Linked DNA regions of Homo sapiens: region 2 is linked to region 1. The links come from fine-mapping of genetic effects on gene expression. A gene starts in region 1. The other region holds a variant in brackets. All regions are shown on one strand. Distances are between the middles of the regions.

What was found. PIP is the estimated chance that this variant, and not a neighbour inherited with it, causes the effect.
Region 2: its variant is fine-mapped to the expression of LIME1 in whole blood (TOPMed, PIP above 0.99).

What each region holds. Positions count from the first base shown.
Region 1 is chr20:63,727,692-63,743,006 of GRCh38, forward strand. It overlaps LIME1 (Lck interacting transmembrane adaptor 1), which reads left to right and starts at 8,973. Exons shown (of 6, transcript NM_017806.4): 1 at 8,973-9,021; 2 at 9,842-9,956; 3 at 10,130-10,211; 4 at 10,282-10,369; 5 at 10,492-10,808; 6 at 10,907-11,412. The coding sequence starts at 9,859. The coding sequence ends at 11,209. ZGPAT (zinc finger CCCH-type and G-patch domain containing) reads left to right here. Exons shown (of 7, transcript NM_181485.3): 3 at 5,528-5,661; 4 at 5,896-6,048; 5 at 7,014-7,133; 6 at 7,468-7,873; 7 at 8,090-8,451. The coding sequence ends at 8,228. It overlaps SLC2A4RG (SLC2A4 regulator), which reads left to right and starts at 12,085. Exons shown (of 8, transcript NM_020062.4): 1 at 12,085-12,347; 2 at 12,686-12,840; 3 at 13,679-13,788; 4 at 14,178-14,365; 5 at 14,439-14,539; 6 at 14,645-14,924; 7 at 15,008-15,099; 8 at 15,188-15,315. The coding sequence starts at 12,222. The coding sequence ends at 15,299. RefSeq lists enhancers at 763-1,082, 4,659-5,201, 8,399-8,578, 9,158-10,074, 10,274-10,868 and 2 more and silencers at 10,009-10,228, 10,299-10,448, 10,529-10,588, 11,593-12,092, 12,343-12,492 and 1 more.
Region 2 is chr20:63,699,911-63,715,225 of GRCh38, forward strand. ARFRP1 (ARF related protein 1) reads right to left here and starts at 8,066. Exons shown (of 8, transcript NM_001267547.3): 1 at 7,957-8,066; 2 at 7,089-7,187; 3 at 6,741-6,828; 4 at 6,447-6,529; 5 at 2,226-2,307; 6 at 1,920-1,990; 7 at 692-792; 8 at 1-620. The coding sequence starts at 7,181. The coding sequence ends at 533. ZGPAT (zinc finger CCCH-type and G-patch domain containing) reads left to right here and starts at 8,129. Exons shown (of 7, transcript NM_181485.3): 1 at 8,129-8,208; 2 at 8,643-9,254. The coding sequence starts at 8,671. RefSeq lists enhancers at 1-511, 7,132-7,191, 8,054-9,014 and silencers at 7,342-7,391, 7,482-7,721, 8,142-8,201, 8,242-8,401. The variant C/G (reference allele first, on the strand shown) is at 3,347.

The DNA.
Region 1 (15,315 bases):
GATTCTCTATTTCCTGAATCATTGCCATCATATTTTCATTTAATTATTTGAACATACTTATAGTAGCTGCTTTGAAGTCTTTGCTAAACTCAACATCTGGGCCCACTCAGAGTCAGATTATATCAACTGCTTTTTTTCCTAAATATGGATCATGGTTTCCTGTTTACCTGTCTTATAATTTTTTTTGTTGAATACTGGACATTTCAGATGATCTATGTCTGGATTCTGAGTTGTTTTCCTGAGTCTTGTGTTCTGTTTGTTTTAGTTAAGTTGTTTGGACTTAAACTGCAAAACTTGCCCACCCACCCCTGCAGCCTCTGATATCTCTGCTCAGATTTTTAAATTCTTTTTTTTTTTTTTTTGAGATGGAGTCTTGCTGTATTGCCTAGGCTGGAGTGCCAGTGGTGCCATCTCAGCTCACTGCAACCTCCACCTCCTGAGTTCAAGCAATTCTCCTGCCTCAGCCTCCCAAGTAGCTGGGATTACAGATGTGTGCCACCATGCCTGGCTAATTTTTTGTTTTTTTAGTGGAGATGAGGTTTAACCGTGTTAGCCAGGATGGTCTCGATCTCCTGACCTTGTGATCCGCCCACCTCGGCCTCTCAAAGTGCTCGGATTACAGGTGTGAGCCACCACGCACGGCCTTAAATTCTATTTTTTAGTCTGGCTTCCTAGCAGTTGCTTCTGTGTTTGCATATGGTAGTGGTCAGCCAGGGATTTGGGCAAGAGGGTGTGCTCAAACACTCCTAACCCAAAAGGCTCCCCACCACACCATGTGGTTTCAGAGCACGTTGTGAGTTCAGCCAGCCCCTCTCTCTTTGCTTTCACTTCACCCTGGCCTCTCTTGGAGCTCCCAACACCTGCAGTGGTTTCCTCAAGAGCCAGGCCCTTCCTGGGAGAGCTGAGCCCTTCTGTGGCTCTCATTTTCAGAGTCTTCCTGTTAAGTATCTGGCTGGCCCAGTGCTCACTCCAGCTGGGATCACAGCCCCAAATGATCAGGGCTGTCAGTTTTCTTTGTAAGTGTTTATCGAGTCACCACTTTTAACTACGAGGCCTGGGTTTTCCCTTCTGTCCCACATCCACCTCTGCTGCTGCTGGTTTTTGCAGCCAGCCTTGACCTGGTAAATCACTCAGATTTGCTGACTCAGGAGTAGGAGCCAGGGGCAGCCCCAGGTGCAAAGGCTGTAGACTTCCCAGTATTCTGGCCCAAGGCCCAACATTTTTCAAGAAGAATCTCTTCTCAGTGAGTTCTCAGCTTTGGTCAGTTTCCAGAACTCTGAAAAGTTCTAAATCAGTGAGTTTTGATAATTTTGTCTAGTTTTAGATTATTTTTTCTTTTTTTCTTTTTTTTTTTTTTTGAGATGGAGTCTCACTTCGTCACCCAGGCTGAAGTGCAGTGGTGCGATCTTGGCTCACTGCAACCTCTGCCTTTTGGGTTCAAGCGATTCTCCTGCCTCGGCCTCCCGAGTAGCATAATTATAGGCGCACGCCATCACACCGGCTCATTTTTAAATTTTTGGTAGAGGTGGGGTTTCACCACGTTGGCCAGGCTGGTCTCAAACTCCTGACCTCAAGTGATCCGCCTACCTCAGCCTCCCAAAGTGCTGGGATTACAGGCGTGAGCCACCGCTCCCGGCCCATATTCGATTCAACGACCTCTCTACTTGAGTGTGGCTGGAACTCAGAAGCTTCTTTTAGTTTTAGATGTTGTTTGTTTTCAGGGTTAAGTCTTTACTAATTCTGGAATGTATTTCTGTCAATGCTGTGAGGTAGGTGATTGGGTTGGGATCTTTTATGTATGAAAACCCAGTTTTTAATTTTCTCTTGTGAAATCCATCGTCTTTCTCCTTGCACCCCATCTGTGATGCTTCCTCTGCCACACGAGGCTTTCTGTGTGAGGGGGGGCTCTTCCTGGAGGCTCTCTTTTGCTCCATTGATCGATTTGCCTGTTCTCTTGGTTTTCAGTTAACTTCATGGATATGCCATTAACTTCTCTCCATGGTTAGAAATTTAGGTTATTTCCAAGTTTTTCATATTTGGTTAATATCTTTGTGGCCAAATCTTTACATACATTCTCCTTAAAAATCATGTCACTGAGGCGGAAGGATTACATGAGCCCAGGAGTTCAAGACCAGCCTGGCCAACATGACAAGACCTTGGCTCAACAAAAAGATTCAAAAATTAGCTGGCATGGTGGCACACTCCCATAGTCCCAGCCACTTGGGAGGCTGAGGCAAGAGGATTGCTTGAGCCCAGGAGGTCAAGGTTGCAGTGAGCTGTGATCCTACCATGCACTTCAGCCTGGGCAAGAGAGCAAGACTCTACTGCGCACACACACACACACACACACACACACAAAATAATAGAAGCACTTTCTGGGTTAAAGAGTTTACAAATTTCAAGGCTTTTAATATTGTCAAATATTCTAGAAGAGGTTTTACTAATGATGGTGTGGGTGTGCTGAAGGGGCGTATTTAATCGAATTCACTCTGGGTTTAACCCTCTCTTTTTGAACATGTTCTCAGTCTCCTTTCAGCCAGTCTCTGCTGCAGTGCATTTGAGGCACAGTCCTGTAGCCCCTGGCGCCCCCGGTCATTGGCAGGGCCCTGTGTGCCTAAGAACAGTAGGCACTAGAAGGAACCGCCCAAAATCCTGGCCTGGGGAGGTGTACGAGGCCACCTTTGTCTACGCATGAGACAAAATCCCTGTTCCACCTCACTCTGCTCCACCCACCCGTTCCTACTGGAAAGACAGCCTTGGCTCCATGTCACGGGCTGAAGGCCTGTCCTCAGTTGCTCCTTTTTTGTTTTTTTGAGACAGTCTCACTCTGTCTTCCAGGCTGGAGTGCAGTGACACAATCTCTGCTCACTGCAACCTCCGCCTCCCGGGTTCAAGCGATTCTTGTGCCTCAGCCTCCCGAGTAGGTGGGACTATAGGCACGCGCCACCACACCCGGCTAATTTTTGTATTTTTAGTAGAGACGGGTTTCTCCATGTTGGCCAAGCTAGTCTCGAACTCCTGACCTCGTGATCCACCCGTCTCGGCCTCCCAAAGTGCTGGGATTACAGGCGTGAGCCGCTGCACCTGGCCCCTCAGTTGCTTTTGTGGGGTTGAAAGAACTTCCTTTTTGAAACGATGGCATGGCAGCAGTGGATGGCGGTTGGTTTTTCATGTCTTTATTTGGCAAAGTTGAAGATTGCAGTTCTGTCTGTCCCCACATTTCCTCTTCATTCTCTCTCTCTCTCTCTCTCTCTCTCTCTCTCTCTCTCTCTCTCTCTCTGTGTGTGTGTGTGTGTGTGTCTCGGTTTTGGTTTTAATTTTACTGGTTCACTGATGCCTAAAAGTCAAGGCATCACTATTTCATAAGCAGGTTCTCCTAGTTTGGGGGAGGACTCAGTCATGCACATACACACCCCCAGCACATCTGCCTTGATGCACTGGTGCTGTGGCCTGTGCAGTAGTGAGGCTGTGGGAGCTGCTGTCAGAAGGCTGCTGCCACACTGTGACTCCAGCAGAGGCGATGGGACACACGGGGCATATTCTGGAGCAGCCAAGTCCATCCCGAGAGAGAATGCGGGTGTCTGTGTGTGTGATGTGTGTGAGACTGTGTGTGTGTGTGCATGTGCATACATGTGTAAAGTGTACAGTTGGCCCTTGTGTGTGTGAGATTGTGTATGTGCATACGTGTGTAAAGTGTACAGTTGGCCCTTGGTGTGTGTGTATGTGTGCATGTGCATACGTGTGTAAAGTGTACAGTTGGTCCTTGGTGTGTATGTGTGCATGTGCATACGTGTGTAAAGTGTACAATTGGCCCTTGGTGTGTGTGTGATTGTGTGCATACGTGTGTAAAGTGTACAGTTGGCCCTTGGTGTGTGTATGTGTGCATGTGCATACATGTGTAAAGTGTACAGTTGGCCCTTGGTGTGTGTGTGATTGTGCATATGTGTGTAAAGTGTACAGTTGGCCCTGTGTGTGATTGTGTGTGCATATGTGTGTAAAGTACAGTTGGCCCTTTGTGTGTGTGAGATTGTGTGTGCATACGTGTGTAAAGTGTACAGTTGGCCCTTGGTATCTGCAGGTTCCATATCCATCATTTCAACCAATCTCGAGTTGAAAATAATTGGGGAAGAAAAGGATGGCTGCGTCTGTACACTGTATAACAACTATTTACATAGCATTTACATCGTATTAGGTACTGCAAGTAATCTAGGGATGATTTAAAGTACGTGGGAAGATGTGCGTAGGTTATATGCAAACACTATGTCATTATATATAAGGGACTTGAGCATCCTTGGATTTTGGTTTGCACAGGGGGTTTCCCATGGATACCAAGAGACTACGTGTGTATGCAAGTGTGAGTGTGTATATGCATGTGTGTATATGCATGCCATGTGTGTGCATGTATGTGTATATGCATATATGAGTGAGTGCACGTGACAGTCTACACGTGAGGGTGCATGTGTGTGCGCGTGTGGGTGACTGCATATGTGTGTGCATGTGTGGGTGCGGGTGCATCTGTGTGTGCATGTTTGGGTGCGGGTGCATGTGTGCGTGCACGTGTGTGTGGATGAGAGGTCGCATGTGTGTGGGTGAGGGCGTGTGTGTGTGCATGTGTGTGGGTGAGGGGGCATGTGTGTGCACGTGTGTGGGTGAGGTGTGTGTGTGCATGTGTCAGGGTGTGTGTGCGCGCATGTGTGTGGGTGAGGGCCTGTGTGTGCGTGTGTGTGGGTGAGAGATGTGTGCGCATGTGTGTAGGTAAGGGTGCTTGTGTGCGCATGTGTGTGGGTGAGGGCGTATGTGTGTGGGTGAGGGCACGTGTGCGCGCGTGTGGGTGAGATGGCGTGTGCGTATATCCATGTATGACTGCATCTGTATTTGCATGAGTTCATGTGTGAGTGCATGTTTATACGCGTGTCAGGGTCTCTGTGTATGTGTATGACGTGTGAGTACATGTGTTAATGTGTGTGTACATGTGTATATGCCTGTGTGCATGTGTGTATGCATGTGTATACATGTGTACTTGTGTATGTGTATATGTGTATGTCTGTATATGTGTGTGTATGCCTGTGTACGTATGTATATGCGTGTGTGTATGCATGTGAGTGCATGTTTATGCGTGTGTATGTGTACTTGTGTGTGCCTGTGTGAGTGCATGTGTGTGTACATGTGTATATGCGCGTGTGCGTATGCGTGTATGTGTACGTGTGTATATGCATGTGTGTGTATATGCCTGCATGTATATGCACAAGTGTGTATATATGTGTATGTGTGAGTGTATGTGTGCATGTGTATCTGTATGTGCGTGTGTATATGTGCATGTGTGTATGTGTGCGTGAGTGTGTGCATGTGTGTGTGTATGTGTGCGTGTGTATGTGTGTGCGTGAGTGTGTGAGAGTGTGTATGTATACGCACGCGTGTGTGTCTGTCTCCCTCAGGACAGTGCCCAGGCGGATGGGTCAGTGCTCCTGGGTTGGTTTGCCCCTGGTGGCCCATGTCTGAGCCCTGCCCCTTACGGCTCTGTCTGCAGGTTCTCCCATGGGCAGGTGGTCTCTCTGGATGAGCTGCGCCCCTTCCAGGACCCAGACCTGAGCTCCCTGCAGGCCGGCTCTGCGTGTCTGGCCAAGCACCAGGATGGCCTCTGGCACGCAGCACGCATCACCGGTGAGGCTGGCCGTGGGGGCCTCCCGGGAACACCCTCCCAGGCCCCACGTGTGTTGTCACTGTGTGGCTGCTCCCTGCTTCCTTTGGGTTGAGTGTCGGGACTCTGGCTCTGGGCCCGAAATGAGCACACCTACCCTCAGCCTCTGCCCTGCCTTGCTCCTCATGTCCAGGGTGGTTCCCTTCAGTGGCACCTGCTGTCAAGGATTCTGACCTGCAGCTTGTCTCTGCCCCCAGATGTGGACAACGGCTACTACACAGTCAAGTTTGACTCGCTGCTGCTGAGGGAGGCCGTGGTGGAGGGGGACGGCATCCTGCCCCCACTGCGCACAGAGGCCACAGAGTCCGACTCAGACAGCGACGGTACGGGTGACTCCAGCTATGCCAGAGGTATGGCAGCAGCTGCGGAGCCCAGGAGCCAGGAAGGTGGGGTCACCCTGAGAGGCTCCTGGCCGGTGAGGGCACCAACCATCTAACCAAACTATTGGAGAGTGTGTGACTGCGGCGAGGGTGCCACCTGTGCCTGAGGAGGCCGTGTGGGTAGGGGTAGATCCGTGGCGGCCTTTATCTTCAAGGAGTGTGGGTGCAACAGCTACAGTCTCATTGATGGGAGGCCATGGTCGTGGCTGTGGCCATGGGAGAGGAGGGGCCTGGAGTTGCCGAGGAAGTCACAGAAAATGACCAACTGATGGGGCCTGGAGTGCAGGAGGGGCAGCTCCTCTGCATGGCTTCTCAGACTTGGGACCTGGGTGCCTGGGATCCTGGCAGACAGAGGTTGTGTCCAGACAGCCAGCATGGAAGTTTCGGGAATGGGAACTGGTGGGCAGTGTCCAGCTCTCCAGAGGGGTGTGTGTATGCGTGTGCGTGTGTGTGTATATATGTGGGAGGTCACCTGACCCAAGCATGGCGGGCTGAGTCCAGGAGGGGTCTGCATGTTGGAGGTGTACCCAGGGATCAGTGATGGTGGTTTCTGAAGCCCCATGTCCCTGGTGAAGGAGGACTGAACCAAGGACTCTGTGAGGGCAGGTGAGGCGCTCACAGCCTCGCGAAGGTGGAGAAGGGCAGGGGCAGGAGAGGGCTGCGGAGGAGGGGCCACGGTGCAGCAGGCCGTGGGGACTGCCATGCACTCTGCCTGGTGTCACATGCCCACAGCAGCCTCGGTGACGAGAGCACGGAGCCCAAGAGGTGGGGTGTCGTGGCTCTGCCCAGGATCTGAGCTCATTGGTCAAAGCCCGGGTCACCATGCACAATCCTCTGGCCTGGCTGGGCCACTGCCCTCTGTCCATCTCTTGCAGTGGTGGGGTCGGACGCCGTGGACTCTGCACAGTCCTCTGCCCTCTGTCCGTCTCTTGCAGTGGTGGGGTCAGATGCTGTGGACTCTGGGACCTGCAGCTCTGCCTTTGCTGGCTGGGAGGTGCACACGCGAGGTATAGGCTCCAGACTCCTCACCAAGATGGGCTATGAGTTTGGCAAGGGTGAGTACAAGCTGCCCTGGAGAAGTGGGCAGGCTGCTGCAGCATAGCCCAGGTCCAGCAGCCATCAGGTTCCCGGGGTCCCGCAGCCATCGGGTTCCCAGGGTCCCGCAGCCACAGCACTGCCATCCCCGTGCTCCTCAGATTCCCGGGGTCCCGCGGCCACAGCACTGCCATCCCCGTGCTCCTCAGATTCCCAGGGTCCTACGGCCACAGCACTGCCATCTCCGTGCTCCTCAGATTCCCGGGGTCCCGTGGCCACAGCACTGCCATCCCCGTGCTCCTCAGATTCCCGGGGTCCCGCAGCCACAGCACTGCCATCCCCGTGCCTCCGCAGGTTTGGGCCGACACGCGGAAGGCCGGGTGGAGCCCATCCATGCTGTGGTGTTGCCTCGAGGGAAGTCGCTGGACCAGTGTGTGGAGACCCTGCAGAAGCAGACCAGGGTTGGCAAGGCTGGCACCAACAAGCCCCCCAGGTGCCGGGGAAGAGGGGCCAGGCCTGGGGGCCGCCCAGCTCCTCGGAATGTGTTTGACTTCCTCAATGAAAAGCTGCAAGGTCAGGCTCCTGGGGCCCTAGAAGCCGGGGCGGCCCCAGCGGGGAGGAGGAGCAAGGACATGTACCATGCCAGCAAGAGTGCCAAGCGGGCCCTGAGCCTGCGGCTCTTCCAGACTGAGGAGAAGATCGAGCGAACCCAGCGGGACATCAGGAGCATCCAGGAGGCTCTCGCCCGCAACGCTGGCCGGTACGTGTGGGGCCCAGCTCAGGGCAAAGGGCGACCCAGGGTGGCCCTGCCCCCGGGATACATGCTGGAGGTCACCTGACCCAAGCATAGCGGGCTGAGTCCAGGAGGGGTCTGCATGTTGGAGGACGGGCAGCGGGCACACAGGCAGTGGGTACGGCAGACTGGGGTTGGTGGCATGGCCCAGGACCCCACGCTGACTAGTGAGCCCCTCCGCAGGCATAGCGTGGCGTCAGCCCAGCTGCAGGAGAAGCTGGCAGGAGCCCAGCGCCAGCTGGGGCAGCTCCGGGCTCAGGAAGCCGGCCTGCAGCAGGAGCAGAGGAAGGCAGACACCCACAAGAAGATGACTGAGTTCTAGAGACCCCACAAGCACTATGGACGAAGCGTGGGACCCCAGCACGGGCTGCCCTCAGGAAGACCAGTGTTGCCCGAGGAGGGGCCGGCCTGCTGGCCTGGGGCGTGCAGACACTGCTGAGTGGAGACAGAGCTGCGGGGTCCCATCTGGACACTTACTTGCCCACCTGCCAGTGTCTTGGGCATTTCCTTGGCAAGGACATTAAAGTGATTTCATCACAGTGTCATTCAGTGGAGATCAGCTGGCTGCAGGGTCTCTGGGGAGAGAAGGGTCTGTGCAGGGCTGTGGTGAGAGACGGGCTGGGCTGGAGGGGCCTAGGAGGCCGGCATTCTCCCTTCTTACCCTTCTCTGACCAAGGCAGATCGGAGGCCAGGGTGCCCGCCAGGCTGCCTGACACCCACAGATGGGTGGAGCTCAGTGCTGCTCCAGCGGGCGAGACGGGCGGGAGAGGACTGTGGCCCACCACGTGGGGCACTCTTGGTGAGGCAGGCGGACCTGGCCCTGTGGGTTTGGGGGTTCTGTGCCAGCTCTGCTCACGTCTTCGTGTGTGGAGGGGTTGTGAGTTAGGCTGTCAGAACAGTGCGGGCTAGAGGCGCACACGTTTCATCTAGGCTTCGGGCGGGGCGCAGCAGGTGGGTGAGGCTGCGGTGGTGGCTGCTGCCCAGGGTGGGAGGCTCAGGGGAGGCGCTTGGCGACAGGAGCAGGAAGTGATGAGGTGGGGAGCTCAGCCGAGGGCTGCACAAAGACCTTCCTGGCCTGCCCCAGACAGAGCTGAGGACCCCTGGCCGTGGGCTTGGTAAGTGCCCTCCTGGGGGGCAGCTGGGGTCTGGGAGGCCTTGGGATGTGGCTGCAGCTGGGTCAGTCAGCCAGGCTGAAGCCCACTCCCTGGGTCTGAGCAGACTGGCCCCAAACTCCAGAGACCACCCCTCACCCCCCAGCTTCTGTCTCTGCTGCTGGACTGTGCTGTTTGTAAGGCATCCCCCACCCCGAGAAGTTCTGCTAAGATCCCCAAGAAGGGGACAGATCCTCTCTGGCAGAGACACTGGCAGACAAGAAGAGCCAGAGAGAAGTGGGGTGGGGGCATCAGCACCCCCAGCAGCTGCTGCTGCCTGCTGACCCAGCCTCCAGCTCCTCCGGGTGCAGGGTCCCTCCTGCTGACCAGCCTCCAGCTCTTCCCAGTTCTGGGCTCCGCAGCGAGCGGCTTGGGGGCACTACCTGACACAGGAGACCATGTCTGGGCAGAGGGTGGCTGCAGGTGGAGTCTGTGGCCTGTGGCGCACACCCAGGGGCTCCCCCGATGCTGGTTACTATCTGGGCTATGGTGGCCACAGCTGTCTTGCCCCTCCTCACGGCCGTGCTGGGTGTTACCGTGGTCACCCGCAGGGACACGGAGGGGCCAGGCAGAGCAGCCCTAGTTCACCTCACCGGGAGCCCCCGCCAGAAGGTGGGCACCTCTGGGAGGGAGGGACTGCCAGGCCTTGGGGCTTCCTGTGCTGAGTCAGAGCTGGAACGGGAGACGCAGGAGCCCCGCAGCCGCGGGAGGTGCAGATTTGGGGCTGCCAGGTGGCGCCAGGTCCCCTTGGCCAGCCCCCAGCGCCCCTTTCTTCTGTCCCCAGGGCCTCGGCTTCACAGGATGGGGCTGCCAGTGTCCTGGGCCCCTCCTGCCCTCTGGGTTCTAGGGTGCTGCGCCCTGCTCCTCTCGCTGTGGGCGCTGTGCACAGCCTGCCGCAGGTAGGTCCCTCAGCCGCGTTCTGTCTGGGGCCTCGCTGCGGCTGCCATTCACAGCCCAGCGCGGGAAGGGGCTGGAGGCAGGTCCGCGCACCCAGCTCGGCACGCGCGCCTGCACCGGGCCTTGGACCCGAGGCTGACGACCCCGCCCCCCGCCCCCCACCTCTACCCCCAAGGCCCGAGGACGCTGTAGCCCCCAGGAAGAGGGCGCGGAGGCAGCGGGCGAGGCTGCAGGGCAGTGCGACGGCGGCGGAAGCGGTGAGTGCCAGGCTGTCCCGGGGACCAGGGTGGGGTCCGCAGGGCACCGACCAGCCTTCCTCGCCCCCAGTCCCTACTGAGGCGGACCCACCTCTGCTCCCTCAGCAAGTCGGACACCAGACTGCACGAGCTGCACCGGGGCCCGCGCAGCAGCAGGGGTGAGCAGAGGGCGGGGCGGGGGCGGCCGGGCGGGGCTTACTGTGCAGCGCGTGCCAACCCCTGGGCCAGACCCGCTCCTGCCCCCTGCCCGGAGTGAACTCTGCCCTGACCCCACCCCCAGCCCTGCGGCCTGCCAGCATGGATCTCCTGCGCCCACACTGGCTGGAGGTGTCCAGGGACATCACCGGACCGCAGGCAGCCCCCTCTGCCTTCCCACACCAGGAGCTGCCCCGGGCTCTGCCGGCAGCTGCAGCCACCGCAGGGTGCGCTGGCCTCGAGGCCACCTATTCCAACGTGGGGCTGGCGGCCCTTCCCGGGGTCAGCCTGGCGGCCAGCCCTGTGGTGGCCGAGTATGCCCGCGTCCAGAAGCGCAAAGGGACCCATCGCAGTCCCCAAGAGCCACAGCAGGGGAAGACTGAGGTGACCCCGGCCGCTCAGGTAACGTGGGCCAGGGTAGGGCGCTGTGGGTGGGGCCGGCAGATCCTCAGCAGGTTGGATGGTGCTGACCCCTCCTCGGGTTGGCTTCCTGTCTCCAGGTGGACGTCCTGTACTCCAGGGTCTGCAAGCCTAAAAGGAGGGACCCAGGACCCACCACAGACCCGCTGGACCCCAAGGGCCAGGGAGCGATTCTGGCCCTGGCGGGTGACCTGGCCTACCAGACCCTCCCGCTCAGGGCCCTGGATGTGGACAGCGGCCCCCTGGAAAACGTGTATGAGAGCATCCGGGAGCTGGGGGACCCTGCTGGCAGGAGCAGCACGTGCGGGGCTGGGACGCCCCCTGCTTCCAGCTGCCCCAGCCTAGGGAGGGGCTGGAGACCCCTCCCTGCCTCCCTGCCCTGAACACTCAAGGACCTGTGCTCCTTCCTCCAGAGTGAGGCCCGTCCCCCGCCCCGCCCCGCCTCACAGCTGACAGCGCCAGTCCCAGGTCCCCGGGCTGCCAGCCCGTGAGGTCCGTGAGGTCCTGGCCGCTCTGACAGCCGCGGCCTCCCCGGGCTCCAGAGAAGGCCCGCGTCTAAATAAAGCGCCAGCGCAGGATGAAAGCGGCCAGCCTCGCAGCCTGCTCTTCTTGAAAGCTGGGCGGGTTGGGGCGGGGGGCTTCTCTGGAAGGCTTGGAGCTGTCCCCTCTGGCCTTGGGGGACTGGCTGCCCCCGGGGCGCCCGGGCCTAGCCGAGGCGGTGCTCCTGCCGGCCAGACTCTCGGTCAGTGCGGGCACGGGGTCCCAGCCACTCCTAGGGGGCAGCGCAGCCGGCAGGGTGGCCGCCCCCGGGTGGGACTTGGACCCTGGACTCCACGGGAGGGCTCCGCCACCCAGCCTGGTGTTACATAAGGGGTGGTGGAGGTGGGCAGTCGAGCGTTAAAGAGTAACCTGCTGCCGGGAAGCCCGCCAAGCAATCGCGGCCCCTTCCCCGGCTCTGGCAGCTCTGCGAGCGCGCCCGTGGGGAACGGGCCCTCCCCGGCGGGGCGCGCGGGCGCGCGAGGTGGGCGGAGGCCTCGGAGCTGTGCCGGGCCGGGCCTCCCTCCCTAGGCCAGCGCGGGAGCGACCCGGAGGGGGCGGGCCCGGGGCGGGGCCTCGAAGCGCTGGCCGGCGGGAGCGCGGCCGGCCGGGCCCGCCCGCCTGCGGTGTGGACGCCGCGCGGCCAATGCGCGCGCCGGGACGGGACGGGACGGGGCGGGGCGGGGCGGGACGAGACGGGGCGGGGCGGGGCGGGCCGGGCAGCCTCCGGGCGGCGCGGCGCGGGCGGCGGCCGGATCCAGGGCGGGGGTCGGCGGCCCGGCCAGCCCGGCCCGGCCCGGGGCCGCGTCCTGAGAGTCAGCCCTCGCCGCTGCAGCCTCGGCGCCCGGCCGGCCGGCCATGGAGCGCCCCCCGCCCCGCGCCGCCGGCCGGGACCCCAGTGCGCTGCGGGCCGAGGCGCCGTGGCTGCGCGCGGAGGGTCCGGGGCCGCGCGCCGCGCCCGTGACGGTGCCCACGCCGCCGCAGGTACCGGGCGCCGGTGGGCGGGGGCGCCGACCAAGTTTCTCTCGCTGCAAAGATGGCGTCAGTGCTGCCCAAACTTCGGGCCCCCGGGGGCGGGGCAGCGGGGAGGGCGGCCGCGTCGGTCCGCGCGTGTCCGTGGGTCCCGCCGGGGCTGCGCCGGGCGGCCGGGGAGCCCTTCCCGCCGCGCCGGGCTGGGGGCGGGGCCGGGGGCGGGGCCGCGCCGTCCACACCGGCCGCAGCCGGTTTTCGAGGCGGGCGCCGAGCGGATCCGCGGCGGAGGTTGAGGGACCCCCCTCCCCCGGCCACCGCCTCCGCTGAGTCTGCCCCCTCCCCATCCGCAGGGCTCTTCCGTGGGCGGCGGCTTCGCGGGCTTGGAGTTCGCGCGGCCGCAGGAGTCGGAGCCGCGGGCCTCGGACCTGGGGGCCCCCCGGACGTGGACGGGGGCGGCGGCGGGGCCCCGGACTCCGTCGGCGCACATCCCCGTCCCAGCGCAGAGGTGAGCGGGAGGCCCGGTGCCTCGGGACTCGGTGTGCGCAGGGGCGGTGGGTGGGGTGCGGAGACACCGGCCCCGACGGAGGCCAGGTCAGGGCCCCAGGTTTGTAATTACCAGCCACCCCCAAGCTCTTCAGCCCTGGAGGAGCTGAGCAGAAATGATCGATGACTGGGAGTCCCTACACCTCCCTCCACCGCAGTTCCTCGGGGCTAGAGCTCAGAACCCGGAGCGGGTGGCTGTGCGTCTCTGTGCAGAAGAGGCTGCGCGGTCGGCATGGGGCGACTGTCCAGGAATCCCTGGGGCTCCTGACCGCCACCTCCCAACCCCTGCCAGGCCGGACACCTCGGTCTGGCTGCCAGGGCAGGGGCGGGCCCTGGCCTGGCTCGCTGGGGCCTGGGGAGCTGCCCGTGCTTCCAGCCCAGTCTCCCCCTGGCTGCTGCCGGCTGCTGGCCACTCCCACCTCCCAGGCCTGGCGTGAGGCCCACAGCTGCTGTTGCACAACCCTGGTTAATGTGTGATGGGGGGAGGCCTGGGCCTGGCCCGCCCCTCTGCCAGGGCTTCAGACCCCTGCCCAGCCCCAGTATCTGAAGGAACCACAGTGGAGCCAAGCCCGCGATGTGGAGAACTCAGGCTTCAGGAGACCCTGGCCCTGCTCCTGGCGGCTCCGGGTGGCTTTCAGCTCTCTCTGCAACCTGAGCTGGGGGAGGAGCCAGGCCTCATGCCCAGGGCTGGGAGTGGGGAGCCTGGTGTGCACGCGTGCCCAGGCCTGCACGTGGACCGACCAGGGGAGGGGCCCAGAGCTCTGGCTGGGTCACCCGCACCCCGCCCCCATCTCCTCCAGAGCCACCCCAGGAAAAGCCCGGCTGGACGAGGTCATGGCTGCCGCTGCCCTTACAAGCCTGTCCACCAGCCCTCTCCTTCTGGGGGCCCCGGTTGCAGCCTTCAGCCCAGGTAAGACTCAGATGTCTGCATTTAGGGGTGTGGGTGGGGACAGGGCTCAGAACCTACAGCCACCCAGCCTCTGTGGGGCAAGCAGAGCCCTCAAACCTGGGACTCCTTTCTAAAATGGACTCCCGCACCCTCAGTGCCCCCTACTGAGGCCAAAGCGGCAGGACCCAGGCCTTCTGGCCTCCCTGACCTGCTCACCTCCACGCGGCTGGCCACACACGTCTGCCAACCCTTTCCTGTGCCGGGGGGGTTTCTCCCCAAGCCCTGGGGCCAGCTCCTCCAAGACGCTCTGCCCACCAGTCTCACCGGACTTGGTGAACAGGGGCAGCTCAGGATTAGGGACTCCCTGGACCCACCCGAAGTTCTAAGGCGGGGGGCCCGTGTCCCCACAGAGCCTGGCCTGGAGCCCTGGAAGGAGGCCCTGGTGCGGCCCCCAGGCAGCTACAGCAGCAGCAGCAACAGTGGAGACTGGGGATGGGACCTGGCCAGTGACCAGTCCTCTCCGTCCACCCCGTCACCCCCACTGCCCCCCGAGGCAGCCCACTTTCTGTTTGGGGAGCCCACCCTGAGAAAAAGGAAGGTGAGCTTGGGGGCGGCCCCCAGGGAGGGGCGGGTGTGGCGGCTGAGCCTGACCCTGGCCCCTGTTGCTGCAGAGCCCGGCCCAGGTCATGTTCCAGTGTCTGTGGAAGAGCTGCGGGAAGGTGCTGAGCACGGCGTCGGCGATGCAGAGACACATCCGCCTGGTGCACCTGGGGTGCGGCGGGGCCTGGGGTGCGGCGGGGCCTGCGGGTTGGCTGGGGTTGTGAGGCCCGGCCAGGCCACCCCTTCAGCTCCCACTGGCTGGCTGTGTCTCCCGCAGGAGGCAGGCAGAGCCTGAGCAGAGTGATGGTGAGGAGGACTTCTACTACACAGAGCTGGATGTTGGTGTGGACACGCTGACCGACGGGCTGTCCAGCCTGACTCCAGTGTCCCCCACGGCCTCCATGCCGCCTGCCTTCCCCCGCCTGGAGCTGCCAGAGCTGCTGGAGCCCCCAGCCCTGCCTAGTCCCCTGCGGCCGCCTGCCCCGCCCCTGCCCCCGCCCCCTGTCCTGAGCACCGTTGCTAACCCCCAGTCCTGTCACAGTGACCGTGTCTACCAGGTGGGTGAGGCCACGGGTGGCAGCTGGGGCGGGTCTCAGGGCTCTCTGGAGGGGAGTGAAGCCCTGGCTGTGTCTCCCTGTAGGGCTGCCTGACGCCCGCCCGCCTGGAGCCGCAGCCCACGGAGGTCGGAGCCTGCCCACCCGCCTTGTCCTCCAGGATCGGAGTCACCCTGAGGTGCGTGTGGGCTGAGGGCCTGCGGCTGGCACCAGGTGGGGAGGGTCCTGGTCTCACAGCACCCCATGTCCTGTGACCCCCCGCACAGGAAGCCCCGCGGCGACGCGAAGAAGTGCCGGAAGGTGTATGGCATGGAGCGCCGGGACCTCTGGTGCACAGCCTGCCGCTGGAAGAAAGCCTGCCAGCGGTTCCTGGACTAAGTCCGGCTCGTTCAAG
Region 2 (15,315 bases), 28 kb before region 1:
TCCAGGGCCCCCGCTGGCCTTTGGGAACATGGCCTGGGTCTTCCTCAAGGCAAGATCAGCCCCAGACCACTTCCGGGGTCACGGGGTCACGGGGTCACAGGGCAGAAGCCAGATGGCAGCCATGGCTGACGGGCCTCCTCCTCGATGGGGCGGAGACAGCCACGGGGTCTCCCGAGGGTCCCACAGGGCTGTCCTCATGCAGCCCAAGCCAGCCTGAGCACTGGAGCCCCAATTCCCAACCAGGTCTCCCTCAGACCCCCCAGAAAGGGCCTCGAAAGGCCGCCGCTGCGCCCTGTGGAAAGGCTGCCGCTGCAGGGCCTGGGCCAGCCGGGCTGCCAGACTCCCCTCCAAAGCCTCCGGATGCCTACGCTTTTCCAGACATAGAGGAAAGTTTGTCTTCGAGAAAACAAAGTAAATAGAAGAACCCCAAAGCAAAGCAAACCCACCCCCCAGATCAGCAGCATGGGAGCCAACAGGAGGCCACTCCTCCAGCACCAGGGGACCAGCCGTCCCGACGGCAGCGCGGCTGCGCCTACGTGATGTCCCTCTGCCGCGGCGGCCGGTGCACATTCCGCACGACACACTTCACCATCCACTCGATGCCCTCGCGCACCCCTTTGCTGTGAAGACAGCGGGTGTGAGGCGGGGGGTCTCGGTCCCCAAAGCCCCCGCAGGTGCAGCCCCCACTCACCCTGTGAGGGCCGAGCAGGCCTGGGTCAGGCAATCTCGCCTGCCGATCTTGCTGGTGCAGTCGCTGAAGGCCGTCTTGATGTCAGGGATTGAGAGGCACGTCTGGGGGAGGTAAGGCCGTGAGGAGCAGCCCCCACGTCTGGCCCTGTCCTGCCTGTGGGCCCGGGACTCTCAGAAGGGCGTATGCCCTTCACCCCAGGGAAACAGCCAGAGCTCCACCAGGGTCCCAGTGTCTCCCACAGAGACCACAGCAGTGAGGACCCTGTGCTCAGCCCGAGGCTGAACATGGCTGGTAGTGCCTGAGACAAACTAGACGTCCACACGGCTCCAAGGAGTCCACCCCCCATCCCCTCCCTGGGGGACACCCTGAGCCCCGAGGTGGGGCGCTGAGGACTGAGGCCTCCTGGGCAGTGGCGGAGGCAGGTCCCAGGGGCCCACACAGCCGGGGATGATGGAGAGGTGGGAGCCCTGCATCAGTGATGGAGGCAGTCTGCAGTCATGGTGGCTTCTGCTCACAACCACCTGCCCAGTCTTCAAAAAGCAGCCCTCCCCTCCCCTTTTCCTCCGAGGGGAGACCCCTGCCCCGTACCAGATGTCCCTCTTGTCGGCTGAGATTGTAGGGGAGGCCAGCCTTACAGGCTGGGGGCAACAGAGCCACCCCAGAGAAGGCAGGAAGTGAAGATTCACCTGGCCCTCTGGACGCCGGGCTGCTTCTGTGCAAAGCCACTCCAAGAGAACAGCTAGAACTCAGCGTGGCCAGTGCTCCCGGGGGCAGTGGCACCTCAGAGGGGTCTTGAGGGGCTGCCCTGGGGGTGGGGCTGGCACAGATGCCACCTCCAAGGGTAGCAGGAACAGGTAAGGGTCAGAGCTGACTCCCACCAGGGCCCCAGCATCACTTCTTTGAGCTCTGAGTTTCACCTGGGTGTCCCCACAGCTTGGCCACACACTCCTGAGACACGGCCGCCCTCCTGGGGAGAGGTGCCCTGCATAGCAGGAAGAGGCCTCTGGGCGCCTGCCCTGAGGTGGGAGAACCTCCAGGGCTGGCAGCAGCAGGTCTGGAGAGGAACCAGGCTTGGGAAGCTGCTGGGGGCAGGGCAGGCCTTGAGAATGGCTCTGTACCCCCTGGGCAGTCACTGGGCCTGGGGTGTCTGGGTGCACACCTGCTCCCCTTGCTGTGGGGGAGGCTGGGGACTCGGGAAGCTGCTGCGGGAGGCAGGGGTGGGGCTCACCTCCACATCCTGCTTGTTGGCCAGCACCAAGACGGGGACACCGCACAGCGCCTCGCTGGTCACCACCTTCTCTGGGGAGGGCAGGAGAGGCAGCGCCTCACACCCAGCATCCTGCCTCTGACTGCCCAGGGGCCCACAGGCGTGGACACTGTGACAGCCACTCCCTCTGCCCCCCCCCCCCCCGTCACCCACTAGGCAGGAGCACTTCTGACCAGACACTGAGCCTGCCCCAGGCACAGAGCTGCCCAAGCTGGACCTGCCCCCACTCACCATCCATCCCTCCCAGAGCAGCCAGGCCGCACTCACCAAACGCCTGCTTGGACTCAGCCAGCCTCTCCTCGTCGGTGGAGTCAATGACGTAGATGACGCCGTGACACTCCGCATAATACTGGGAGGAAGCACCAGGAGTTGGGGCTCAGTCCCCACCCTGCCAAGGGCCAGCAGAGCCAGGCCTGTGTCATGGCCACAGTGAGGGGCTCACATGAGGAAGGGGCAAGAGGGCAGCCCCCAACTGCAAGACCCTTCTGGGATGCATTCTGGGGTTGCGGGGAGATCTGGTGGAGGTGTCCCCAGACGCTGCTCCTGAGAACCTGCCGGCAACCTTTGGCCTGATGGTGGCCAAAGGTGAAAGACAGGGATTGGGCCAGGCGTGGTGGCTCACACTTATTATCCCAACACTTTGGGAGGCAGAAGCAGGAGGATCACCTGAGCCCACTTCACGGCCAACCTGGGCAACACAGTGAGACTCCGTCTGTACAAAAGCTTATGGTAATGTGCGCCTGCAGTCCTAGCTACTCGGGAGGCTGAGGTGGGAGGATGGCTTGAGCCTGGGAGGTTGAGGCTGTAGTGAGCTCTGATCACACCACTGCACTCCAGCCTGGGTGAGAATGAGAGACCCTGTCTCAAAAAAAAGATAGGGTTTGGGGGCTGGAGGAACCTAGACCACAGCCTGGCCCGTTGAGGGAGTGCACCTGTGGGGCTCTGTGCCAGCACCTCGCACAGGGAGGGAGTGTGGCCATGCGGATAAGACTGACCAGCGCCATCTACGAAGCGAGCCTTCCCTGCCAGGACAGGGCCAGAGTCACTGAGCTCAGACCTCTGCAGCCTGGGCTGGTCAGTCCTGGGCTCGCTGGCAACACTCCTGGGCAAGACAGGGCACAGCCCCTGCAGCCTCAGGTACAAGTGCTGAGCCCTGGACCAGATGAGTGCACCTCTATCTCAATCAGAAAAAAACACAGCAAACTCCGCGTCCACGTGGAGCAGACAACAGCTCACATTTGCCACTTTGCCTCCAGGCTGTGCCAGCTCTCCTGTCCAGGCATGAGTGCCCAGAGACCTAGAACTGGATGCTGACCAGGTAGGACAAGCTGGTGGTCAGTGTGTTAAGACACACACACCCGAGAGCATGAGAAGCCAGGAGGCACAGC[C/G]CAACTCTCCGAAATCCTTAGGGTGTCTGAGCAGGGAGTACCAGACAACCCCATCCCAGTGCCAGACAAGCTTGTGCACCTGCACTTCCCACAGAGGAGAGAAGCCTGTGCACCTGCACTTCCCACAGTGGAAAGGAGGAGGCCCAAGGCCAGGCCCCCCCACCCCCAGGAACTTCCCACAGTGGAGAGGAGGCCCAAGGCCAGGCGCCCTCCAGGGTTCTGCAGGTAGCGAGGCCCCCCCACCCCCAGGAACTTCTCTGGCCTACAGACAGGTCCCACACAGAGGCCGCCAACCCCTCAAGGGACCCTGCAGTGTGCCGGCTGTCTGCTGCTGACACAAGGGAGCAGGCGGACCCTAAGGTGGAGACCTCTGTGGCAGGAGGGGCGGCTCTGTGGAGGCTGCAGCAAGCCCAGTGAGAGAATCTCCACGTGGCTCCTGGGGCTTCTGAGCAGGGTGGCAGAAGGTTCATGTGCAACCGGGTCCTGGACCATGGGACCACGTGGCCAGAGCCACCCATCACACCTACCAGGCACAAGGTGCACAGCCCAGCAGGGCCGCAGTGGACGGGAGCGACACCTCAGGGCTGAGTGCGGGCAGGACCCAGAGCCCCACGCCCCAGTGGAGGCGTCACAGCAGTGGTCATTGTGGGGTGCCCCACAAGGAGGGGGAAGAGGGAGGTGTCCAAGCGTGGCTCCTGGCTGGCCAGCTGACCCCAGTGGAGCAGTCAGAGGGACTGTGGGTCTGAGTTTTTCTCCCCAGCAGCAATGGGAGCTCCCCAACTGCAAAGTGCCAGCCAGCCTGAGAGACTAGTGTTACAGCAAAGAACCCAGGAGCTGAGGTCCTGGCACATGCCACACATGTGGACACCAACCCAGGGTCCAGCCCCAGGACGAGGCCAATTCGCAATGACGCCCCTTTCTGTGGTGCTGGCTCTGCACAAGGATGCAGGATACAGGAAACCAGGGTGGGAGCAGGGGCCTCCCTTCCGGTCCCTCCCAGTGACCTAGGGGGGTCCCTGCAGCTGATCCTCCCAGCTCTGAGCTCAGCAGGGTCAGGGGTCCCGGCCACTAGAGCAGCACATACTCAGCAGACACGCTGAATGACGAGCCACAGCTGCCTCATGGGCATGACTTGCACCTCATGTCTAGGAGACCCTGGTGGGCAGGAGATGGGGCTGCCATCCCACAGCTGTCCCACAGCTGGGGACCCAGGGAGCCACTGGCCCCACCACGGTGGTGTCTGGAGAAGGGCTCAGACTGCCAGGAAGTCGCACCCCAGCAGAAGTGGTAGTGAATTGGGAGGGCACTCAAGGAAGGGCTGTGCAGCCCCAAGACCAGCAGCAAGGATGGGCTACAGTGGCCCCCTTAAGTCTCCCTCTTCCAGTTTCGCCTTAAGAGAGGCCCTCAGGACCTTGGAGGAACCCCTCTCCAACGTGGAAGTGTGGGTCCACATAGGGCTGCAGCTGTGGCCAGTGCAGGCATCTCTGGCCCCACTGTATTCTTGCTTCATGTTGGAGAACACTGCACCAGCAGATGGTCTCATTTTGGTTTCTGTGGGACCCACTTTGGCTGCAAAGAGCCACACTGCCAGGTCACACCTGCCCAGGGCAGCCCACACTGGGGACCCACCAGGCCATGGTGTGAAGTCCCGGCCAGCCTGGCCCCACATGGCACAGCATAGCCAGTTCTCCTCCAGGGCTCCCTGCTGGGCCAACCACAGCTCTGTGGATCCTGCTGCCTGAGTCGACCTCTCCTCTCCCGTCCTCCCTGCCTTCCTGGTGCCGACCCCCAGTGTGCATCCTGTACCTCGACCTGTCTCAGCATCTGTGCCTGAGACACCGGCCTGTGACAAGATCATCATCATCTGTGTCACTCCCCAAGCATGCTGCGCACTGGACACACAGGCCCTGACTCAACTTGTCCTGTCTGACTTCAGTGGTCCTACAGGATCTATCAGAGATCACTTGGCCATGGGAGAAATGTCTTCTTGGCTAGAAGTCACAGCAGGAGGGGACACTTTGGGGGCGCCTAGGAAAGGGGAACTAGGATCAAAAAAGAGATCAGGACCTGGGCACTCAGCTCTAGAGATGGCATCAGGGCAGCCAAGGCACTGGGGACACCCCACACCCACTGTGCCAGCCTAGGGCAGGGAGCCCGAGGAAGCCACAGGCTCTGCCCTGCTCAGTGCTGGACTCAGTGCCTGGCCCAGGCTGAGAAGGAGATAAACTGCAGCCTTGGGGGTGTGGGGAAGGGGCACCACACTGGGATCTCAGAAATGCCCAAAACCTGTGTCAAAATAGGAGACTGCCGCTGTGAGACCCTGAGGAGTCTTCTGGTGATCATGGAAGAACAAATGTTAAGCTAGAACTGAAGGAACCTCATCAGGGGAGAGGCAGCCATCCTGCCGTCCCCACATCTGGTCTTTGCCATTTCTGTGTCCTGTGGTGGTCAGCAGCAAGGTCTCTGAGCCGAAAGGAGGCACTCACTTTGGAGGAGTGCAGGGTCCCCAGGTCCCCACACTTTGTCTTGTCCTGACTGAGAAAGAAACAGACTGCCCTGACCTCTCTGACTTGGCCAGCGAGGTTGCCCTTAGGCTCAAACCCAAGCCAGGGTTTGAACATTCCCAGACACTTGTAAGATGTTTAGGTTGTTAACATAATGTTCAGGTTTCAAAACATTGAAAGAAACTAGCCCCAGCCCTGAACCCAGATCCCCCCCGGCTTCAGGCATGACCAGTGAACACGCCCTTCTCTCACTGGTCACCTGAGGATGCCGCACTCTGTCAACAGGTTCCCCTAATACATGCTCTGATCTGATCGCCTTGGCATTTAGTGATTCTTTCCCTGGAATTCTCCACTGGCCCCATCGCAGGGAACTCCCAAGTGGGAAACTCCCCTACCACCACTTTTGGGGCAACTTCAGCTAAGGGTTCAGCTGGGACAAAACAGGGAGCCACTCGGGAACCTGGGACAGGACCAGAGAGAAAACCCGAGGGACAGAGTGGGTAAGGAAAACTGCTGAGGAAGGGCCCAAAGGGCACTCTGGAAAGAAGTGGCACTGGAGGGCTGGGGTGGGGGTGGTCCTGGCCAGGGAGTCTTACCTTGTCCCACAAAGACTGCAGCTCTTCCTGCCCTCCTAAGTCCCAGAACATGAGCCGAGCCTTTCCCACATCCACAGTGCCGACTGGGGAGAGGAGGAAACAGGCAAGGCTCATGACCTTGGTCCTCGACACACCCAGTCCCAGCTCTCCCAGGGGATGGGGCAAACCATGCTGGTGCCACTCAAATGAGACTTGAGAGGGGCCCGACAGGGCTGTGGCCACGGGCCAGCTGGACTGTGAATATCACGGCATCCTCAAGGCCCCAAACCCACAGCCTGCTATTGAGACCCTTACTGTTTAGGCCCACGGTGGTGGTGATTTTGGATAGACTCATCCCCTTGTAGTTCTTGTTAAATCGGGTTTTCGACTGCTCCAGGAAGGTCTGAGGAGAGAGGCAGAGGCGAAACACATCAAGGAGGGGCTATACTGGCTTCCAAATATCCTTACTCAGGTCTGTTCTTTAAAAGACAGAAACAGAAACAGAGCAACACTCTGCTCTTCAGGAGGCTGGTGGTGACTATCCTGCCGTCTCAGGTGAAATTTGGCTTCCGTCTGGGTAGTGAACGTGCAGCTGACAGCACAAAACCGAAGGGGGCGCCGCCAGGCCGTGGGAAAGGTGCGCGCAAGGGCGTGGGCACTCACCGTCTTCCCAGCATTGTCCAGGCCCAGGATCAGGATGCAGTACTCGTCCTTCTGAAACATGTACTTGTACAAGCCCGACAGCAGCGTGTACATCCTGCCCTGGGCACCCCAACATAGGTCAGTGTGCAGCCAGAAAGCACCTCCCCTCCCCCGGGCTTCTCCACGGTGGTCAGTGGCGCCCCACGTCCAGCCGACCGCTCAGGACGAGAGCCTGGGGGCCATTCCCGACTCCTCGTCCCTCTCCCACCCCGTCCCTCTGTAACTTCTCCCAGGTCAGCCGCCACTGTGTCCTGCTCACAGCAATGACTGCGACCTCTCCGCATACACATCGGTTCCGGCCCCTCCCCTGCTCGCGGGACTACCCAGCCGGGTGTTCACAGTGAGCTCAGCCGCGCTCCCGCCCTCCCCCGAGGCTTCGCTCCCACGCTTCACGCGCGCGGAACGGGGAACACACTCGCTGCAGCCCCGCCTGGGCCACGGCACCCTCGAGCGCCAGCCCCGCGCCCCACCCGGGAGCAGCGAGCCACCGGCGCGCTCCCCAGGAGCCCCTGCAGGCGCCGGGTAGGGACGCCCCATCACCCCATTTCTTAAAACGGGGACGGCCCTGGGGGGAGCGGACTACAGGGCGGGTGAGCAGCGGCGCGGCTGCTCCTGGAGTGCACCTGGAGGCGGCGCGCGGCTGGCAGGGAACGACTGCGAAGGAAGAACCTGGGTCGCGGCCCCCGGCTACGTCCGCCCCAAGCCGCCGCCGCCAGGTCTGAGGCTCCCCGACAAGCAGCCAAAGCTGGCTCCTGTCACACCCGCGTCCCACCTCGAGTCCTGGGCCGCCCCTCGGGCCTCGCGCCTCACCGCACAGCCTGCGGCCTACCTGCGTCCGCCGCGCCCTCGGAGCCGCTGCTGCTGACCCCCGCTGACCTCCGCTGACCCCGCGCTAACCCCGCGCGGCGCCTGACGGGACGCGGGCCGGCCTCAGGGAATGAGCTGAACCGCGTCCCAGCGGCCTCCGCGCTCCGCTTCCCGGCTGCCCCCGCGCGCCAAGCACTTCCGGAAGCGGCGGCGCTCGGGAGGAAGTGCCGATCGGCTGCTGGGGCGAAAAGGGGGCGCCGGGCCGCTCTAGCCGGTGAGGCCGGCGGGCTCTCTGTGGCTGCGGCTGGGAAACCGCGCGGAGGAGGTGCCCGGCCGGGGACCAGGTGGCCGCGGTTTGCGGGGACGCGGCCCTGGCCAGACAGAAGAGACGCCGGGCGGGGGGGCGCGGCCGGCCTGGAAGGCGGCGGGCGCGGCGGGTGGGCTCGGCGGAGGGTGAGGCGGCGGGGCGCCCCGCGGGGAAGGGGCTCCGGAGTGACGCGGGACCCGGCTAGCGGCGAGCCCACGGCGGCTCGGAAGGGAAGCGCGGAGCCTGAGCGGGGGTACCCGGGCTGCGACCTCTGCGCTGGGAGCTGTGCCTCTGAGCCGGTGTCTCCCCGAGGGAAAGGGGACGTGCCCGTGCCCGTGCCCGCCCTCAGGCTGTGGGGTCGGTCCCGAGACGCGGGGCTCAGCTGGCTTCTCTTCTTGCAGCCCTGGTCCAGCGCCTCCCTCTCTCAGCATGGACGAGGAGAGCCTGGAGTCGGCCTTGCAGACCTACCGTGCGCAGCTGCAGCAGGTGGAGCTGGCCTTGGGCGCCGGCCTGGATTCGTCTGAGCAGGCTGACCTGCGCCAGCTGCAGGGGGACCTGAAGGAGCTCATCGAGCTCACCGAGGCCAGCCTGGTGTCTGTCAGGAAGAGCAGCTTGTTGGCCGCGCTGGACGAAGAGCGCCCGGGCCGCCAGGAAGATGCTGAGTACCAGGCTTTCCGGGAGGCCATCACTGAGGCGGTGGAGGCACCAGCAGCGGCCCGTGGGTCCGGATCAGAGACCGTTCCTAAAGCAGAGGCGGGGCCAGAATCTGCGGCAGGTGGGCAGGAGGAGGAAGAGGGAGAGGACGAGGAAGAGCTGAGTGGGACAAAGGTGAGCGCGCCCTACTACAGCTCCTGGGGCACTCTGGAGTATCACAACGCCATGGTGGTGGGAACGGAAGAGGCGGAGGATGGCTCGGCGGGTGTCCGTGTGCTTTACCTGTACCCCACTCACAAGTCTCTGAAGCCGTGCCCGTTCTTCCTGGAGGGAAAGTGCCGCTTTAAGGAGAACTGCAGGTAAAGCCCTTTGTTGTCAGATGCCAACCTTAGGGGCGTAAGGGGCACGCACACAGGGTCGGGTCAGGATCGGCCCTCCCTTTGCTTTGCAGTTTTGTCTCAGCTTCCTGGGGCAGGCGTGCTTTGACAGCTGTGTCTGTGTTCAGGCGTCTACGTCTTCCTTCTGGGGTGAATCAAGAAGCATGGAAGGAGGCCAGGCGCGGTGGCTCACGCCTGTAATCCCAGCACTTTAGGAAGCCGAGGCGGGCAGATCACCTGAGGTCAGGAGTTCAAGACCACGCTGGTCAACATGGTGAAACCCCATCTCCTTAAAAACACAAAAATGAACCGGTCGTGGTGGCGCGCACCTGTGGTCCTGGCTACTCAGGAGGCTGAGGCAGGAGAATTGGTTGAACCCAGGAGGCCGAGTTTGCAGTGAGTGGAGATGCAGCCACTGTACTGCAGCCCGAGCAGCAGTGCAAGGCTTATGTGGAAGAGAGTAGGTCTCCAGCCTATCGTCAGTTTTTTTTTGGTGGTTGTTTTAATTTTTTTTGAGACAGGGTCTTACTTTGTCAACCAGGCTGGAGTGCAGTGGCATAGTCCTGGCTCACTGCAGCCTGGACCTCCTGGGCTCAACCGATCCTCCTGCCTCAGCCCCCCTAGGAGCTGGGCTACAGACTCACGCTACTACACCCAGCTAATTTTTATATTACTATAATTTTTTATCTTTTTTTTGAGATGGAGTCTTGTTCTGTTGCCCAGGCTGGAGTGCAGTGGCGTGATCTCGGCTCACTGCAAGCTCCGCCTCCCGGGTTCACGCCATTCTCCTGCCTCAGCCTCCCGAGTAGCTGGGACTACAGGCGCCCGCCACCATGTCTGGCTAATTTTCTGTATTTTTAGTAGAGACGGGGTTTCACCATGTTAGCCAGGATGGTCTCAATCTCCTGACCTCGTGATCCGCCCACCTTGGCCTCCCAAAGTGCTGGGATGACAAGCGTGAGCCACCGCGCCTGGCCTTTTTTTTTTGGAGACAGAGTTTCACTCTCCTCACCCAGGCTGGAGTGTAGTGGCGCAATCTCAGCTTACCGCAACCTCTGTCTCCCGGGTTGAAGTAATTCTCTACCTCAGCGTCCAGAGTAGCTGGCATTACAGGCGCCCGCCACCACACTGGGCTAATTTTTTGTATTTTTAGTAGAGTCGGAGATTCACCATCTTGGCCAGGCTGGTCTTGAACTCCTGACCTCGTGATCCACCCACCTTGGCCTCCCAAAGTGCTGGGATCACAGGCGTGAGCCACTGCGCCTGGCCCTGTTGTTAGTTTTATTCTCTAGAGTTCAACTTTTAAATTTTACTTTCATGGAGATTTTCAAACATACCCCAAATTAGAGAGTTTAGCATAATCACCGCCCACGGTCCATCATCCAATGTCGTCATTTATTAATATTTTCCCAGTCTCATTTTGTCTGTTCTCCCTGCCCTATTTTTTTCTTTCCTGGGCCATTTTAAAGCAAATTCCAGAAGTTACTGGTTTTTTCCAATTATGAATACTTCATAGTTGCATCTCTAATCTAACTGATTAGGAAATTACTTAAAAAGTAACTTTTTGGAAGTCCAAGTCCGATGTGAGGACAAAAAAGAGTAACTTCTGTGTCATAATAGGTAACACATTTAATGGTAATACCTCTTCCATATTCAAATATGAACAATTATTACTGTAATGTCTCTATTTCCCTAAGCGCATAGCTTTATTTTTCCTCCTTTTTACTTTTCTCTTAGAAGAAATATTTACCAAGCCTTCTAGTAGGTAATTTTCTTTTTTAGCCAATAGTTCAGGCTGACCGTGTAACCATCCCTAGTTCTAGTTCTAGTTCTTTGAATGTCTTCCTTTTTTTTTTTTTTTTGAAACAGCGTCTTGCTGCTCTGTCACCCAGGCTGGAGTGCAGTGGCACAATCTCGGCTCACTGCAATCTCCGCCTCCCTGGCCCAAGCCATCCTCCCACCTCAGCCTCCCTAATAGCTGATACTACAAGTGTGCACTGCCACGCCCAGCTAATTTTTGTATTTTTTGTAGAGACGGGATTTCACCATATTACCCAGGTCTCGAATTCCTGATCCCTTTGATGAGAGATCTGACACATCCCTGTGGTGCTCCCTCTGGGCCAGGCACTGCTCCAAGGGTTTCATATACTTTCATTCATCTGTGCAACAGCCCTGTAGGTAGGCCCTGCAGTCACACCATCTGACAGAGGAGGAAACAGGAGTAGAAGAACTGAGTGGTCCAGGGCTTCAAGGCTCAGAGGGCTCCGGTTGCCCCCAGCCCTCGTTCCGTCCCCTGCTCCACCCAGTGCTGCTTGCCATGTCGGCATCAGGCCTGATCTGAAAGCTTCCGGAGCATCTTACAGACGTCCACCTTGCCACCATTCAGGACTGATAAGTTCTCTTGGATTTGCGTTGGACCTTTTTTTTTTTTTTAAGATGGAGTTTCACTGTTGTTGCCCAGGCTAGAGTACAATGGCATGACCTCCACCTCCTGGGTTCAAGGGATTCTCCTGCCTCAGCCTCCCAAGTAGCTGGGATTACAGGCGCCTGTCACCACGTGGTGCCCAGCTAATTTTTATATTTTTAGTAGAGGCAGGGTTTCACCATGTTGGCCAGGCTGGTCTCGAACTCTTGACCTCAGGTGATCCCGCCTTGGTTTCCCAAAGTGCTGGGATTACAGGCATGAGCCACCACACCCGGCCCAGGATTTCTTTATATATTCTGGATATCATCCCTTATGAAGTATATAGTTTGCAGATATTTGCTCCCATTGTTTGGGTTGTCTTTTCACTTGATATAGTGTCCTTTGATGCACAAACATTTTAAATTTTGATGCAGTGCAATTTATTGTTTCTTTATTGCCTATGTTTTTGTCATCAGGTTTAAGAAACCACCTCATCCATAGTTATGAGGATTTTCACCTATGTTTTCTTCTAAGAGTTCTGTAGTTTTAGCTGTTAAATTTAGGTCTTTGATCCATTTTGAGTTAATTTTTGTATATGTTATTAGGTGAGGGTCCACTTTATTCTTTTGCATGTGGATTTCCAGTTTTCCCAGCACCATTTGTTTAAAAGACTGCTTTTTCTCCACTGAATGGTCTTGGCACTTTTGTCCAAAATCAATTGGCAATATATGTAAGGGTTTATTTCTGAGCTCTCTCTCCTGTTCCATTGGTGTATATGTGCCAGTACCACACTGTTCTGATTATTATAGCTTTGTGATAAGTTTTAAACTCAGGAAGTGGTAGTTATTCACCATTTGCTCCTCTTTTTCAAGTTTGTTTTGTTTCTGGATCCTTTGCAATTTCATATGAATTTTAGGATCGGCTTGTCCAATTCTGCATAAAAGACAGTTTGAATTTTGATATGGATTGCATAGAATGTGTAGATCTGTTTGGGGCACATTGTCATCTTTACAATATTAAGCCTTCTGGCTGGGTGTGGTGGCTGACGCCTGTAATCCCAGTACTTTGGGAGGCTGAGGCGGGCATATCACTTGAGGTCAGGAGTTCAAGACCAGCCTGGCCAACGTGGTGAAACCCCGTCTCTACTAAAAATAAAAAACAAATTAGTCGGAGGTGGTGCACACCTGTAATCCCAGCTACACGAGAGGGTGAGGCAGGAGAATCGCTTGAACCTGGGAGGAGGAGGTTGCAGTGAGCTGAGATCATGCCACTGCACTCCAGCCTGGGTAACAGAGGGAGACTCCATCTTAAACAACAACAATAACAGAAGAAAAAAACAGTATTAAGTCTTCCAATTCATGAATGAAGGATCTGTCCATTTATTTACGTCTTTAATTTCTTTCAACAGTATTTTGTACTGTTCAAGTCTTGCACATTCTTGGTTAAATAAGTATTATTTTTGATGCTTCTCTAAGGAATTGTTTTTCTTTTCCTTTTTTTTTTGAGACAGAGTCTTGCTCTGTCACCCAGGCTGGAGTGCAATGGCACAATCTTGGCTCACTGCAACCTCTGCCTCCCGGGTTCAAGCAATTCTTCTGCTCAGCCTCCCAAGTAGCTGGGATCACAGGTGCCTGCCACCACACCCAGCTAATTTTTTTTTTTGAGATGGAGTCTTGCTCTGTTGCCCAGGCTGGAGTGAAGTGGCCCAATCTTGGCTCACTGCAAGCTCCACCTCCCGGGTTCACACCATTCTTCTGCCTCAGCCTCCTGAGTCGCTGGGAATACAGGTGCCTGCCACCACGCCCAGCTAATTTTTTGTATTTTTAGTAGAGATGGGGTTTCACCATGTAGCCAGGATGGTCTCGAACTCTTGACCTCAGGTGATCTGCCTGCCTCGGCCTCCCAAAGTGCTGGGATTACAGATGTGAGCCACTGTGCCCGGCTGGAGTTGTTTTCCTTAGTTACATTTTCAGGCTGTTTGTTGCTAGTATATAGAAATACAAGCTGGGCACCGTGGCTCACGCCTGTAATCCCAGCACTTTGGGAGGCCAAGGCGGGTGGATCACCTGTGGTCAGGAGTTCGAGACCAGCCTGGCCAACATGGTGAAATCCAGCCTCTATTAAAAATACAAAAATTAGTCTGGCATGGTGGCAGGTGCCTGTAATCCCATCTACTCAGGAGGCTGAGGCAAGAGAATTGCTTGAACCTGGGAGGCGGAGGTTGCAGTGAGCTGAGATCGCGCCATTGCACTCCAGCTTGGGGAACAAGAGTGAGACTTCATCTCAAAAAAAAAAAAAAAGAAATACAGTGGATTTTTTTATGTTAATCCTGTATTGATTGCTGAATTGGTTTATTAGTGCTAATAGGATTTTTTATGCACTATTTAGGATTTTCGATATATACAATCATATATATTCAATATATACAATTAATATATATGTGAATAGAGATAATTGTAGTCTTTGTTTCTAGTTTGCATGGCATTTATTTCTTTTTCTTGCTTAACTGCCTTAGCTAGAACTTCAAGTACAATGTTGAATAAAAGTGACTAGAGCGGGCCGGGGGTGGTGGCTCACACCTGTGTTCCCAGCACTTTGGGAGGTGGAAGTGGGCAGATCACTTGAGATCAGCAGTTTGAGACCAGCCTGGCCAACACGGCGAAACCCCATCTCTACTAAAAATACAAAAATTAGCTGGGTGAGGTGATGTGCACCTGTAGTCCCAGCTACTTGAGAGGGTGAGACATGAGAATTGCTTGAACCTGGGGGGCGGAGGTTGCAGTGAGCCAAGATCATGCCACTCCACTCCAGCCTGGACGACAGAGCAAGAACCCTGTCTTTAAAAAAAAAAAAAAAAAAAGTGGCTAGAACAAACATCTTTATCTTGTTCCTGATCTTAGGTGGAAAACTTTTTTGTTCCTGATATTAGGTGGAAAACTTTTAGTCTTTCACTGTTGAATATGATGTTACTTGTAGGTTTTCTGTAGATTCCCTTTATCGAGTTGAGGAAATTCTCTTATATTCATAGTGTGTTGAGTGTTTTTTATCATGAAAGGGTGTTGATTTTTTTTTTAAAGATAGGGTCTTGTTCTGTCACCCAGGCTGGAGGGCAGTGGCATGATCATGGCTCACTGCAACCTCGAATTCCTGGGCTCAGGGGATCCTCCTACTTCATCCTCCTGAGTAGGTGAGACTACAGGCATGAGCCACCATGCCCAGCTAATTTTTTAATTTTTCTGTAGAGGTAGGGTCCTGCTTTGCTGCCCAGGCTGGTCTTAAACTCCAGGGCTCAAGCAATCCTGCCTCAGCCTCCCAAAGTGCTGAGATTACAGGGGTGAGTCACTGCACTGCACCCAGCTGTGTGGGATTTTTCAAATGCTTTTTTCCTTTAGATGATCATGTGTGGTTTTTTTCCTTTCATTTTGTTAATGTGGTATATTGATTTTCGTATGTTGAACCATCCTTGAATTCCTCAGATAAAGCACGCATATTCATGGCGTATTATCTCTTTATTATTATTATTTTTGTAGAGATGAGATTTCACTCTGTTGCCCAAGCTGGTCTCAAACTCCTGGGCTAAAGTGATCCTCCTGCCTCAGCCTCCGAAAGCGCTGGGATTATAGGCATGAGCCACTTGGC